Linked DNA regions of Homo sapiens. The protein of the gene in region 1 interacts with the protein of each later gene in a pairwise test. Each region holds a gene or a part of one and is shown in the gene's direction. Other genes may lie near its edges.

Region 1 (3,653 bases):
AGGCACGGAGGGACCTCAGACCACTTTGGATTCACTAGAGATGTTTCATGTGTGCACTGTGACTCTTGCACAGGCAAATAGATATCTTGGTGGATTTAATCTGTAAATATTAGGGATCATCTAAAAGGTATATTCCTTGCCTTAGTTGGCCTCTAATAAAGGAAAAAAGAAGGGTTTTTGAATTGCCTGACCTTAGTCTTGTCTTTCTGACTAATTAGATTACTGCTTCTGTCAGTTTTGTCTTACAGCTTCTTAGTCTCTTATTAACTTCTCTTAGCTGGATGCATTTATAATGCAAATGTCTGATAGAACTGAAAAGTGAGCTTCGTTGGATGGTAGTATTGTTTGAACAACAGAAGAAATTCAGAAAAAGAGTAGAGCCCATGAAAAGACAATTAAGGAATCCTATTGGGGAGAATATAAAACTTTAATTTTTGTCATTTTGAGCTATTGGTATTGCCAGTGACAGTAAAAGGGAAAGGCTGGTAGAAAGAGCACAGGGCCCTTAGATTGAAAGAGCCTGGGCTCAAAATCCAGGTCTGTCACTAATTGTGCGGTATGGGGCAAGTTACTGTCTTTGAGCCTGAGTTTCTCTAAATGTAAAATGGAAATAATGACTCACTACAGATTTTTTAGGAATCGACGAAAAAAAGTATGTAGAAGAGCTTAACACAGAGGCACTCAAGTTTACTTGACTCCAACGAAAAGGCAGTCACTGTTTTGGCCTGCTTAAATCTTTTCTTTTCCTTCTGAAACACTGAAAAAAAAATAAGCTAGAATTCAAACCCACTGTTAATTTTGAGCTGTATATTAGGTTATGATCTTATTTACTTAAAAAAGTTACTTGGTTGCATGCTTTTCTTCTTAAAAAAAGGAAGTTACTTGGATTTTCAATTGGACTCAATTGGAATTTCTTGAGGTATAGACATTTCAGAGTCTAATGAGAAGCTAGATTCTAGAGAAAAGACTAGACTGTACTCAAAGAAGGGGGTGGGTGGGAACTCAGCTTATTCTTTGAATCATTCCAGCCTAGCTAGGTTGTTTTTTCCAGTTTTAAGCCTGGTCCTGGAATGCCTCTTTATTTCAAAGTGAAACAAAATTGAAATGGCCCAGTAAGTAGTGTAAAGATGTTAATGAGAACTTTTAATGTTTTATTCCTTTATTGAAAGTGTCTGACGTAGACATTACAATGAATGTAAAATAGGTGATATTCTTTAAACACACCAAAAAAACAATTTTCAAAGCCATTTTCAGGCCACCTGTAACTTGATAGGGATGAATAACAGTTTATGCCAGTTGAAAAAAACCGAGAGCTAAGATTTATCAGTTTATCTTCACTATTTAGTTTGTTTCTTTCTTTATTGTTTGTTTACTTACTACTTTTTTGAGACAGGGTCTCACTCTGTCTCCCAGGCTTGGGTGCAGTGCATGATCATGGCTCGCTGCAACCTCAACCTCTTGGGCGCAAGCGATGCTCCCACCTCAGCCTCTCAAGTGGCTGGGACTACAGGCATGTGCCACCATGCCTGGCTAACTTTTGTATTTTTTGTAGAGACAGGGTTTCACCATGTTGCCCACGCTGATATCAAACCCCTGGCTTCAAGCGATCTATGGGGCTTGGCTTTCCAAAGTTCTGGGATTATGGGTGTGAGCCACCGTGTCTGGCCAGCTTCTTTTATTTTATAAACATTATCTCAGCCCTTCTTATACAACTTTGAAGAGGTCGACTTCGGACTTTGAAATTAAGTTGCTCAAATGTTATGCTAGTGTGTATACGTTCAGGTTTTTTGCAGGAATAGAAGAGAAGGGTGGCAAGGATTAAAAAAAGATTAAATAACTTGCATCTTTCTCTCTTAACAGGAGCATTGTAAGCCAAGGAGGCAGGGCTTTTCATTTCTTATCTGCCTGCCTGTATATATGGAGGCCTGATTTTCTTCCTTAAACTCCTTGGTTTCTTAGACCTACTATGTTCTTTTAAAGCTTTGATGTCATCAAACAGTCAGGTGGCTAATAATAAGGTCATGGCCTTTGTAATCATCTGGCCCTAGGATCTAACATAATTTCTGCCAATAATTAGTGATGTGACCTAACCTTGAGAAGTTTTCATAACTCATTTAAATTTCTGGGAATAATACCCACCTTGCAGGAAACTTTAAGAATTAAATAATGTGTAAAAAGCTTAGTGCCTGACACATAGTACTTCTAATAATAATAGCTAATGATAGCCAACACTAATACAGTACTTACCATCTGCCAAGCAGAATATTAAGCACTTTACATGAAGTACATCTTTTTTTTTTCCCCCCGAGACAGAGTCTCACTCTGTTGCCCAGGCTGGAGTGCTGTGGCACGAGCTGGGCTCACTGCAACCTCTGCATCCTGAGTTCAAGCGATTCTCCTGCCTCAGCCTCCTGGTTAGCTGGGATTACAGGCACGTGCCACCACGCCCAGCTAATTTTTGTATTTTTAGTAGGGATGGGGTCTCATCATGTTGGCTAGGCTGGTCTCGAACTCATGACCTCAGGTGATCCGTCCGCCTCAGCCTCCTAAAGTGATGGGATTACAGGCATGAGCTACTGTGCCCGGCCTGAAGTACATCTTTTAATGCTCTCAAGAACCCTATGAAGTACATGCCGTTATTTTTCTGTTTTTATAAATGAGGAAACAGGCTCTAGAGCTGAGCTTTTAGCCATTTTGCTATATTGTCTCTCCATACATAGGATATTTATGGAATATTAGATAACAGTGATACATCCCACCTTCAGAGGTGCTAGAATGTGGAAAATGTGTTTATTAGAAATGATGAAATTGACATTTCATATACTAGAACGTGTTTGGTGTTGGTCATCTTTTACACCACACTCAGCATCAGAAGGGTTTTTTTTTTTTTTTTTTTGATAGAGAATCTCGCTCTGTCGCCCAGGCAGGAATGCAGTGGCTCGATCTCAGCTCACTGCAACCTCCACCTCCTGGGTTCAAGCAATTCTCCTGTCTCAGCCTCCCAAGTAGCTGGGACTACAGGTGTGCGCCACCACACGCGGTGAATTTTTGTATTTTTAGTAGAGATGGGGTTTCACCATATTGGCCAGGCTGATCTCGAACTCCTGACTTTGTGATCTGCCCACCTTGGCCTCCCAAAGTGCTGGGTTTACAGACGTGAGCCACTGCGCCTGGCCAGAAGGATGGTACTTTTAAAATTAGTTTGGTGATATTAGACAGGATGTTTTGGATTGAGAAAAAGGGATCAGCCAGAAGACTTACAGTAATGCACAGACATGAAATAATGTCTGAAATAGTGGTGATAGTAAGACAGGGAAAGAACTAAAGACTTCATTGGGTTTTTTTGTTTGTTTTTGTTTTGAGACAGGGTCTCACTTTGTCACCCAGACTGGAGTGCAGTGGTGTGATCTCAGCTCACTGCAACCTTCACCTCCCAGGTTCAGGCGATTCTCCCACCTCAGCCTCCTGAGTAGCTGGGACTACAGGTGTGCGCCACCACACCCGGCCAATTTTTGTATTTTTTGGTAGAGATGCAGTTTCACCACGTTGGCCAGGCTGGTCTTGAACTCCTGACCTCAAGTGATACGCTTGCCTTGGCCTCCCAAAGTGCTGGGATTACAGGCATGAGCCACTGTACCCGGCCCTTCATTGGT
Region 2 (3,753 bases), on another chromosome or scaffold:
GACAATATGCCACTTGCAATAGCAACAAAATCCAAGAATTACCTGAATAGAAGCCTAATAAAAATGTATAAGTTGTTTATAGAGGCAACTACCGAAGTATACTGACATATTCAGGAAAAAAGAGCTTGAAATCCATAGAGGAGTATAACATATTCATTCACGGGGAACACAACAGTGTAAAAATGTAAACTCAGCTTAAATTATTTACAATTTAGTGCCTTACCTGTAGCCGCCGACATTACAAGCAAATTTGGGCTGCTGTGCTCTGCTTCCCAAATCAACCCTGTAAATTTATAGAATGGAAACAGAAAGTAAAACACCAGTATCAGCAAGAAAATCTACACAACAAAACAGGGAAAGCCCAGAGTGAGACTGGAGACTGTGTTGAGCTGGTACTTGTGTGTGACACTTGCAGTGTCTGTTGGAGGGGGTTAGCGGCAGAGATGTTGGGGAGGTTTGTAGCCTGCCTAGACGGCAGATGAAAGAATGGGTAGAATAAAAGTTTTGAATTTTCCACTTCACTTCATTGCACAATCTGAGGCAGCCCCTGAAAACACGATGCCAAGAGCCCTAGGTAATAGCAGTGTCCACCAGGAAAATTGGGTTTGTTAAGGCAGCATGGCTCCAGAGTTCTGCTAATAACAACCTGAAACCAACAGAGTGGGAGAGGAATTATGTTTTTTAAAAAAATTCTTTCAACAGAACACAAAGACTGGAATGGAAGTAGACTAGGATATCAGAGTGAATCATGCATACTAAGGGTAGGTGTTAGTTCATAGAAATAAATATATATATTGCTACCTACATATATACTTAGAAGATATGTAAACCGTATTTCTTCAATTCAGAGAATAAATCATTTAGGACCAAAGGTTTGCCAAGTGTAGCTCTGGCTGGGGAGGAGCCCCCGTGGGAAGGTGTGCGTCTTCTCCCAGAGGTCACTATCATCGCGGGAGCTCCTGCCCTGCAGGGAGCACCTGGCCTGGCACCCGCAGCCATTCTCTACAAGGGGTGCAGATGCGCAGATGCGCAGATGCTCAGAGGTGACAGAAACAGAGCATCTCCCACCCATTCCTTCATCAAACAGCCAGGAGTGAGGAAGAGGACCCTCCTGAGTGAGGACTGAGGATCCACCCTCACCCACATAGTGGGACCACAGAATCCAGCTCAGCCCCTCTTGTCAGCCCTGGTACACACTGGCAATGATCTCACCCCGAGCACACCCCTCCCCCCAATGCCACTTCGGGCCGACTCAGAGTCAGAGACTTGGTCTGAGGGGAGCAAACACAATCGGCAGAGGATGGCGGTCCAGGCTCAGTCTGGCATCCAAGTCAGGACCTTGAGGGATGACCAAAGGCCCCTCCCACCCCCAACTCCCCCGACCCCACCAGGATCTACAGCCTCAGGATCCCCGTCCCAATCCCTACCCCTACACCAACACCATCTTCATGCTTACCCCCACCCCCCCATCCAGATCCCCATCCGGGCAGAATCCGGTTCCACCCTTGCCGTGAACCCAGGGAAGTCACGGGCCCGGATGTGACGCCACTGACTTGCGCATTGGAGGTCAGAGGACAGCGAGATTCTCGCCCTGAGCAACGGCCTGACGTCGGCGGAGGGAAGCAGGCGCAGGCTCCGTGAGGAGGCAAGGTAAGACGCCGAGGGAGGACTGAGGCGGGCCTCACCCCAGACAGAGGGCCCCCAATAATCCAGCGCTGCCTCTGCTGCCGGGCCTGGACCACCCTGCAGGGGAAGACTTCTCAGGCTGAGTCGCCACCACCTCACCCCGCCACCCCCCGCCGCTTTAACCGCAGGGAACTCTGGCGTAAGAGCTTTGTGTGACCAGGGCAGGGCTGGTTAGAAGTGCTCAGGGCCCAGACTCAGCCAGGAATCAAGGTCAGGACCCCAAGAGGGGACTGAGGGCAACCCACCCCCTACCCTCACTACCAATCCCATCCCCCAACACCAACCCCACCCCCATCCCTCAAACACCAACCCCACCCCCAAACCCCATTCCCATCTCCTCCCCCACCACCATCCTGGCAGAATCCGGGCTTTGCCCCTGCAATCAACCCACGGAAGCTCCGGGAATGGCGGCCAAGCACGCGGATCCTGACGTTCACATGTACGGCTAAGGGAGGGAAGGGGTTGGGTCTCGTGAGTATGGCCTTTGGGATGCAGAGGAAGGGCCCAGGCCCTCCTGGAAGACAGTGGAGTCCTTAGGGGACCCAGCATGCCAGGACAGGGGGCCCACTGTACCCCTGTCTCAAACTGAGCCACCTTTTCATTCAGCCGCGGGAATCCTAGGGATGCAGACCCACTTCAGCAGGGGGTTGGGGCCCAGCCCTGCGAGGAGTCAAGGGGAGGAAGAAGAGGGAGGACTGAGGGGACCTTGGAGTCCAGATCAGTGGCAACCTTGGGCTGGGGGATCCTGGGCACAGTGGCCGAATGTGCCCCGTGCTCATTGCACCTTCAGGGTGACAGAGAGTTGAGGGCTGTGGTCTGAGGGCTGGGACTTCAGGTCAGCAGAGGGAGGAATCCCAGGATCTGCCGGACCCAAGGTGTGCCCCCTTCATGAGGACTGGGGATACCCCCGGCCCAGAAAGAAGGGATGCCACAGAGTCTGGCCGTCCCTTGTTCTTAGCTCTGGGGGAACCTGATCAGGGATGGCCCTAAGTGACAATCTCATTTGTACCACAGGCAGGAGGTTGGGGAACCCTCAGGGAGATAAGGTGTTGGTGTAAAGAGGAGCTGTCTGCTCATTTCAGGGGGTTGGGGGTTGAGAAAGGGCAGTCCCTGGCAGGAGTAAAGATGAGTAACCCACAGGAGGCCATCATAACGTTCACCCTAGAACCAAAGGGGTCAGCCCTGGACAACGCACGTGGGGGTAACAGGATGTGGCCCCTCCTCACTTCTGTTTCCAGATCTCAGGGAGTTGATGACCTTGTTTTCAGAAGGTGACTCAGGTCAACACAGGGGCCCCCATCTGGTCGACAGATGCAGTGGTTCTAGGATCTGCCAAGCATCCAGGTGGAGAGCCTGAGGTAGGATTGAGGGTACTCCTGGGCCAGAATGCAGACAGGGGGCCCCATAGAAATCTGCCCTGCCCCTGCGGTTACTTCAGAGACCCTGGGCAGGGCTGTCAGCTGAAGTCCCTCCATTATCCTGGGATCTTTGATGTCAGGGAAGGGGAGGCCTTGGTCTGAAGGGGCTGGAGTCAGGTCAGTAGAGGGAGGGTCTCAGGCCCTGCCAGGAGTGGACGTGAGGACCAAGCGGACTCGTCACCCAGGACACCTGGACTCCAATGAATTTGGACATCTCTCGTTGTCCTTCGCGGGAGGACCTGGTCACGTATGGCCAGATGTGGGTCCCCTCATCTCCTTCTGTACCATATCAGGGATGTGAGTTCTTGACATGAGAGATTCTCAAGCCAGCAAAAGGGTGGGATTAGGCCCTACAAGGAGAAAGGTGAGGGCCCTGAGTGAGCACAGAGGGGACCCTCCACCCAAGTAGAGTGGGGACCTCACGGAGTCTGGCCAACCCTGCTGAGACTTCTGGGAATCCGTGGCTGTGCTTGCAGTCTGCACACTGAAGGCCCGTGCATTCCTCTCCCAGGAATCAGGAGCTCCAGGAACCAGGCAGTGAGGCCTTGGTCTGAGTCAGTGTCCTCAGGTCACAGAGCAGAGGGGACGCAGACAGTGCCAACACTGAAGGTTTGCCTGGAATGCACACCAAGGGCCCCACCCGCCCAGA

What was found. Proteins that work in one complex are often made in the same cells at the same time.
Region 2: the proteins of NDUFV2 (region 1) and MAGEA2 interact in binary tests that used the Homo sapiens proteins (3 or more experiments, as listed by UniProt).

What each region holds. Positions count from the first base shown.
Region 1 is NC_000018.10:9,109,141-9,112,793, forward strand, and holds part of NDUFV2 (NADH dehydrogenase [ubiquinone] flavoprotein 2, mitochondrial precursor), read left to right. Parts: intron 1-2,897; exon of another isoform or gene 2,898-3,653.
Region 2 is NC_000023.11:152,751,685-152,755,437, reverse strand, and holds the start of MAGEA2 (melanoma-associated antigen 2), read left to right. Parts: upstream 1-1,595; 5' UTR 1,596-1,650; exon of another isoform or gene 1,651-1,896; intron 1,897-2,046; 5' UTR 2,047-2,125; intron 2,126-2,924; 5' UTR 2,925-3,044; intron 3,045-3,615; exon of another isoform or gene 3,616-3,713; intron 3,714-3,753. UniProt on the Homo sapiens protein: Reduces p53/TP53 transactivation function through recruitment of HDAC3 to p53/TP53 transcription sites. Also represses p73/TP73 activity. Proposed to enhance ubiquitin ligase activity of RING-type zinc finger-containing E3 ubiquitin-protein ligases.